Linked DNA regions of Homo sapiens. The protein of the gene in region 1 purifies or fractionates together with the protein of each later gene. This does not show direct contact. Each region holds a gene or a part of one and is shown in the gene's direction. Other genes may lie near its edges.

What was found.
Region 2: the proteins of CCDC66 (region 1) and TOGARAM1 purify together in Homo sapiens (co-immunoprecipitation; one large-scale study listed by IntAct). This does not show direct contact.

Annotation. Positions count from the first base shown.
Region 1 is NC_000003.12:56,609,055-56,612,874, forward strand, and holds part of CCDC66 (coiled-coil domain-containing protein 66), read left to right. Parts: intron 1-3,820. UniProt on the Homo sapiens protein: Microtubule-binding protein required for ciliogenesis. May function in ciliogenesis by mediating the transport of proteins like BBS4 to the cilium, but also through the organization of the centriolar satellites.
Region 2 is NC_000014.9:45,003,496-45,007,315, forward strand, and holds part of TOGARAM1 (TOG array regulator of axonemal microtubules protein 1), read left to right. Parts: intron 1-565; coding exon 566-871; intron 872-2,512; coding exon 2,513-2,772; intron 2,773-3,820. UniProt on the Homo sapiens protein: Involved in ciliogenesis. It is required for appropriate acetylation and polyglutamylation of ciliary microtubules, and regulation of cilium length.

The DNA of each region.
Region 1 (3,820 bases):
TGCTTTTGAATAGAATGTGTATTCTGTGGTTGTTAGACTAAATGTTCTGTATATATCTGTTAGGTCCATTTGTTCCAGGGTATAGTTTAAATCCATTGTTTCTTTGTTGACTTTCTGTCTTGATGACCTGTCTAGTCAGTGGAGTATTGAAGTCCTCCACTATTATGGTGTTGCTATCTCATTTCTTAGGTCTATTAGTAATTACAAGTTTGGGAGCTACAGTGTTAGGTGCATATATGTTTAGGATTGTGATGTTCTCCTGTTGGACCAGGCCTTTTACTATTATGTAATGTCCCTCTTTGTCTCTTTTAACCACTGTTGCTTTAAAGTTTGTTTTGTCTGATATAAGAATAGCTATCCTGTTTGCTTTTGGTGTGCATTTGCATGAAATGTGTTTTTCCGCTCACATAAACTTAAAGTTTAGGTGAGTCTCCTAAGAGGGCAGATGGTTGGTAAGTTCTTATCCATTCTGCAGTTCTGTATCTTTTAAGTGGAGCCTTTAGGCCATTTACATTCAATGTTAATATTGAAATGTGAGGTACTGTTGCATTCATCATGCTGTTTGTTGCTTGCGTACTTTGGATTTGTTTTTTGTTTTTGTTTTTTAACTTGTATTTTTGTTTTATAGGTCCTCCTGTGTGATTTATGTTTTAAAGAGATTCTGTTTTGATGTGTTTCCAGGATTTGTTTCAAGATTTAGAGCTCCTTTTAGCAGTTCTTTTAGTGGTGGCTTGGTAATGGCGAATTCTCTCAGCATTTGTCTGAAAATGACTATATGATGCTTAGTTTTGCCAAATACAAAATTTGGCTGATAATTTTTTTGTTTGAGGAGGCTGAAGATAGGGCCCCAATCTCTTCTAGCTTGTAGGGTTTCTGCTGAGAAATCTGCTGTTAATCTGATAGGTTTTCCTTTATAGGTTACCTGGTGCTTCTGTCTCACAGCTCTTAAGATTCTTTCCTTCGTCTTCACTTTGGATAACCTGATGACACTGTGCCTAGGCAGAGATCTTTTTGTGTTGAATTTCCCAGGTGTTCTTTGTGCTTCTTGTGTATGCATGTCTAGGTCTTTAGCAAGGCCAGGGAAGTTTTCCTCAATTATTCCCCTAAATATGTTTTGCAAGCTTTTAGAATTGTCTTCTCCCTCAGGAACACCAATTATTCTTAGGTTTGGTCATCCGAGCTCTGAATTTCTTTCTTCTACTTGTTCAATTCTATTGCTGAGACTTTCCAGAGCATTTCATATTTCTAAAAGTGTGTCCACTTTCTTTGAGCTCTAAATTTCTTTCTTCTCCTTGTTCAATTCTGTTGCTGAGACTTACCAGAGCATTTCACATTTCTAAAAGTGTGTCCAAAGTTTCCTGAATTTTTGGTTTTTTCTTTAAGCTATCTATTTCACTGAATATTTCTCCCTTTACTTCTTGTATCATTTTTCTGATTTCCTTGCATTGGGCTTCGCCTTTCTCTGGTCCCTCTCTGATTAGCATAATAACTAACCTCCTGAATTCTTTTTCAGGTAAATCAGGGATTTCTTTTTGGTTTAGATCCATTGCTGGTGAAGTAGTGTGATTTTTGGGGGGGTGTTGACGAGCCTTGTTTTATTATATTACCACAGTTGGTTTTCTGGTTCCTTCTTATTTGGGTAGGCTCTGTCAGAGGGATTGTCTAGGGCTGAAGAGTGTTGTTCAGATTTTTTTGTCCCACAGGGTGTTCCCTATGTATTACGCTTCCCCCTTTTCCTGTGGATGTTGCTTCCTGTGAGCCTAACTGCAGTGATTATTGTCTGTCTTCTGGGTCCAGCCACCCAGTGAGTCTACTTGGCTCCGGGCTGGTGCTGGGAGTTGTCTGCACAGAGTGCTTATGTGAACTGTCTGTGGCTCTCTCAGCCGTGGATACCAGTGCCTGTTCTGGTGGAGGTGGTGGAGGATGCAGTGGACTCCGTGGGACTCCTTAGCTTTGATGGTTTAATGCTCTATTTTTGTGCTGGTTGGCCTCCTGCCAGGAGGTGGTGCTTTCCAGAAAGCATCAGCTGTAGTAGTGTGTGGAGAGGGACCAGCCATGGTGAGGGCCCTAGAACTCTCAAGATTATATGTCTTTTGTCTTCCGATACCAGGGTGGATAGAGAAGGACCACCAGGTGGGGGCGGGGCTAGGTGTGTCTGAGGTCAGGCTCTCCTTGGGTGGGTCTTGCTGTGGCTGCTGTGGGGGACGGGGATGAGATTCCCAGGTCACTGGAGTAGTGTACCTAGGAGGATTATGGCTGCCTGTGCTGAGTCATGCAGGTTGTCAGGGAAGTGGGGGAAAGCCAGCAGTCACAGGCCTCACCCAACTCCCCCACAAACCAAAGGGCCAGTCTCACTGTGTCCCCCGACCCCCTCAAACGCCTGCAACATCCCCCGAGTCTGTTTCCAGGTATAGGGCCCAGCTATGAAAGAAGACCTCCCCAGCTGCGAAAGAAAACGGCTTTAGTTCTTCCCCCACCTGTGGAGTCTGCAAGCCCAATTCATGCCCACCCCCCACCCCCCACGCCCAGTTCTGGCAAGGAAGCTTCTCGTCCTGTTCAAGTTGTTACAAAGTTCATCTAGAGAAGTAATTCTCCCTGTGGAGTTTTAACCCCTGCTCCTCTGGCCACCCTCCTGATGGATCCCTGTGGTGCCAGGCAGGGATGGGATCCTTGGGGATCCCACGAGCTCCCAGTGTCTTTCTGCTACTTCCTCTACCCATGTATTTCACTGGGCTCGGCTCTCTAACTTGACTCAGCCCCAGGTAAAGTCGGGAGCTTCTCCCGCAAAGACTTTCAGCTTCTCCAGTGGGGGTGTGTGTTCGGGAGAGGAGGGTCTCCCTTTCCCACTTCCACAGTTGGGTCACTCACAGTATTTGGGGTGTCTCCCAGCTCCTGCAGCAGCAGTCTGCTTTCTTCAGAGGGTCCTCTAAGGATTGCTGGTCTGTTCTTGCAGTTGATCTATAGCTAAAATTCACAATGCAAGCCTCCACATGCTGCTGTGTCTGGAGCTGCAATCTAGTCCTGCCTCCCATCTGCCATGGTCCTCAACTCCTATTTCCTTGCTTTTTTACATATTCTGCACCTTGATATCTGCATATCTGGTATAACGATCACTTCTTCCGATTTTTTGAATTTGCTTTCATATCTATGATGGTGGTTGGGTAGGCACTTTGGCTTTGATTCTGGGTATGTGCAGTAGTGTAATCTCTATAGACTTTTTTTTGGCCGAAAACAGTATCTGTGGTATCTGTAATTTCCTTGGTGGCTTAGGGTGCAGTTGTTCGTGGAGGCTGTGGTAAAGTTTTGTTGTGAACGGGGACACCAAATGGACCAGTCGTTAGGTTGCAGGATGCTAGCAGTAGGCTGAGCATGCCTGTCCTTGGGCCCCAGGGCTGTATACACTGGCATCAGTGGTAGCAGGTCAAGCCAGGCCAATTATTGGGCTTCTAGATGGCTTGCTCAGGTGCTGAGAATGGTGACAGTGGGTTGGGTGGGTGAGTAGGTTTTCAAGCCACTGGGCAGCAAACATGGGCAATGGCAGTAGTAGTAGTGGGACAACCCTCTGGGATCCAAGCAGCCAGTGGTGGTGTTGGCGGTGGCTATAATGGGCTGCGTGGGCCAGTCCCCAGACTTGCAGGTGGCATATGAGGGTGGGTGCCAGCTGTGATGGTAATGGCAGGTTGATTGGGCCCATACTCTAGGAGGAGTGCTCAGGTGCCAATGGTGGTGTCCTGGGCAGGGCAGTCCCCAGGTCCCTGGACCAATGTGCTTGGTTACTGGTGGAGATGCAGCAAGGCTGGGCAGACCTGCCCCCGGGTTC
Region 2 (3,820 bases), on another chromosome or scaffold:
AACTTAAATGACAGAGGTGATCAGATCTTGTTTTTTTAGTTTTTCATTGAAGTGATCTTTTTAAGAGCATTACCTAAAATACATCAAGATAGGTTGAGAGAAAGTAAAGCATGGAAAAGATACACTAGGCAAATGTTCAGAGAAAAGCAAATAGAAACATGTTGATGATAGGGAAAATATGCACACCAAAACTAAAAACATTTTTAGTTCTAGAGAGGATCATTGTAATGAGAAAAAGAATAATTCACTAAAGAAACAAGACTTCTCTGACATGTGTGTATATGTATACATATACATGCATGTATGTATGTAATTGATAAAATTACAAGGAGAAAGTTAATTTATAAATGTTAGTACAATATTTTAATGGGATAAAGAAGTTTTGAATTAGAAGATACAGAATATTTGAATAACACAAATTAAATTAGTCCTTTACCTCATACCATACAAAAATATACATGCCAATTGGGATGAAAACCTGAATGGGAAAAGCAAAAAGCAAAAAAGCTTTTAACTGTTAAACTGTGTATACATAAATAATATATTATCTTTTGTTTTATTACAGTGTATGCTAGCCTCAATTTTGGCAGTAAGACACAGCAAACATTTGGTAGTCAAACAGAGTGTACTTCCTCAAATGGTCAAAATCCAAGTCCAGGAGCTTACATCCTTCCATCCTATCCTGTCTCATCACCTCGAACTAGTCCAAAGCATACATCTCCTCTTATTATATCTCCAAAGAAGTCTCAAGATAATTCTGTTAATTTCTCAAATTCCTGGCCTCTTAAAAGCTTCGAAGGACTATCAAAGCCAAGTCCACAGAAGAAGCTTGTCAGCCAAAAATCGTCTGATCCTACGGGTAGAAATCATGGTAAAAGTCAATACTTTGTTCAAATTTATTTGTGTTTGAATTAGTACTTTGAAGTTAATGCATAGGGCTGTTAGATCTTTAAAAGCTAGTAAACTACATTTTATCTGTCTGAATTTAGTAAATATTTAGGAAAATATTTAATAGTGTGTTAAATAAATCAAATGTATAAAATTCAATTGAAATTCTCATTTCTTACATTGTCACTTAAAAATCCTTTTCAGAACCAGGAAAATAATGATGCTTTTCTTTGTTTGTTTGTTTGTAAATAGAGATAGGGTCCTACTATGTTGACCAGGCTGTTCTCAAACTCCTGGTCTCAAGTGATTTCTCCCATCCTGTCTTCCCAAAGTGCTGGGATTACAGGCTTGAGCCACTGTGCTGGGCCAGAAAATAGTAATGTTTTATAATGAACATGAACAACATATGTTGTTTGAGAGCCTACTAACAAATTTTAGCTTTACAAATATAAAATGTCATTCATATGCTTATTGCAATTAATGCCTAATATTCATTTATTCAATATTTATTGAATTTTTATTGTATGTTAAAATTAATTTGAAACTTTTTTTTTTTGAGACGGAGTTTCGCTCTTGTTGCCCAGACTGGAGTGCAATGGTGCGATCTTGGCTCACGGCATCCTCCACCTCCAAGTGATTCTCCTGCCTCAGCCTCTTGAGTAGCTGGGGTTATAGGCATGCGCCACCATGCCCGGCTAATTTTGTATTTTTAGTAGAGATGGTGTTTCTCCATGTTGGTGAGGCTGGTCTCAAACTCCCGACCTCAGGTGATCAACCCGCCTCAACCTCCAAAGTGCTGGGATTACAGGCGTGAGCTACTGCACCTGGCTGAAACATTTTTTATTATTTGTTATAAACTAAAATATTCTTTTCTTAACAATAACCCACTCCAAAAATCATGAAATTAGCATATATAAGTTCATTCAGGACAAATTCAGTCTTAAAATAAAAAGTCGACTGAGCGTAGTGGGTCATGCCTGTAGCACTTTGGGAGGCCGAGGTGGTTGGATCCCTTGAGGTCAGGAGTTTGAGACCAGCCTGGCCAGTATGGTGAAACACCATCTCTACCAAAAATACAAAAATTAGCCGGGCTGATGGCACGTGCCTGTAATCCCAGCTACTTGGGAGGCTGAGGCGGGAGAATCGCTTGAACCCAGGAAGCGGAGGTTGCAGTGAGCTGAGGTGGCACCACTGCACTCCAGCCTGGGCTACAAGAGTGAGACTCTGTCTCAAAAAATAAATAAATAAATAAAAATAAAAAGATGTTGAAGGAATCCTCTGCGTCCCTCATGATTTTCTTTCCCCAGCCATTGATGTAAGATGTTTCACCTTTAAACTACCCTACAAGTCCAGTGTTCAATTTATGGCATATTCAGTCAATTTTATCACTTTCTCTTAGCACTATACTTTGATTCTCTTCTATTAATTCCTTTCTGTATTTGTTTATTGTACAAGATCAAATATTGTATCGAAAGCCGAGGCTTTATTCAGCTTGTTCTCCCCAGTGACCAGCTATAATGTGCTTTTTTTATTTTAAAACATTGTATTTTAAGCACTTGTGACTATAACTCCCTCTTCTCTAAAATTAGAAAAAGAAAAAGTAAAATATCTATTTTTCATGCAGGAGAAAATTCTCAAGAAAAACCTCCAGTTCAGCTTACACCTGCCTTGGTGAGATCGCCATCTTCCCGACGAGGTCTAAATGGGACAAAGCCTGTTCCTCCCATACCAAGGGGAATAAGCCTTTTGCCTGATAAAGCTGATTTAAGCACAGTGGGACACAAAAAGAAAGAGCCTGATGATATTTGGAAGTGTGAAAAAGATAGTCTTCCAATTGATCTTTCAGAATTAAATTTCAAGGATAAAGATTTGGATCAAGAAGAGGTTAGAACCAAATATTTTTAATGACTTAAAAATATTTGCAATTTTCTATAATATAGTTGCTATTTAAGGAAAAATCAAGTTCTTTTTATCCTATAATATCTTATTTCTAAAAATATGTTCATTATAGAAAATGTGGAAAATACCATGAATTAGTAGGAAGGGAATTTATCACGCCAGTTCCCACTACCAGAATAATTTACTGTTAACACTCTACTGTATTTTCTTCAAGTATTTTTTCTATGCATACATTATTCCTTTTTAAATTAAAAGTATGAATAATAATATAGCAATACACTCATGTACTGACCCTTCCAGTGAACAGTTTGTCATATTTGTTTCCTATATTTAAATAAATGAAACATAGCATAGTTCTCTCCCCAGTTCAACATCTCTTCCTTCTTCACCAGAGGCAATCACTATTACCATTTATATATGTCTTATGTATTTTTGTACTTTTTATATTAATATTATTTTTGTGTATTTACTTACGGTGTGTTTATACCATTGATTTTGGCTTATGATCAGTCTTTTGCAATTGCATACAGTGAACTGCAATGAACATATTTGAACCTGTCCTTTGTGTTTCTGTGCAAGCTTACTTATCTTTATGAAATTGAGATCATATTGTACACTCATCTTTGAATCCTAGATCACTTTGTGCTATAAAAATGTTACCAGTATGATAACTGTACATAATTATTATATCAGACAAGGAATGCGGTTGCTGTATTACTTTGGTTTCAGAGTACTATTTCCATAGATGCCTCCTTTTTATCATTTCAGTTTGCTTCAAGTCAGGTTAAAAAAAAAGTTTTATATTACATATATAAATGCAAATACTTAATTATGATATTTTATGGTCTTAGTCTGTTTTTAAGGTATAAGCATCAATCATGTAATGATAATTTGCTCAATAAAATAGAGTTAATATTACTGTATATTCATTTTTAACATATGTCTTTATGTTAAACACATGTAAAACTAACCTATAAAGTACCAAAGTTGGTTGTTAATGATTTAAAGTAATCACCCCAACTTCTGCTTGTGA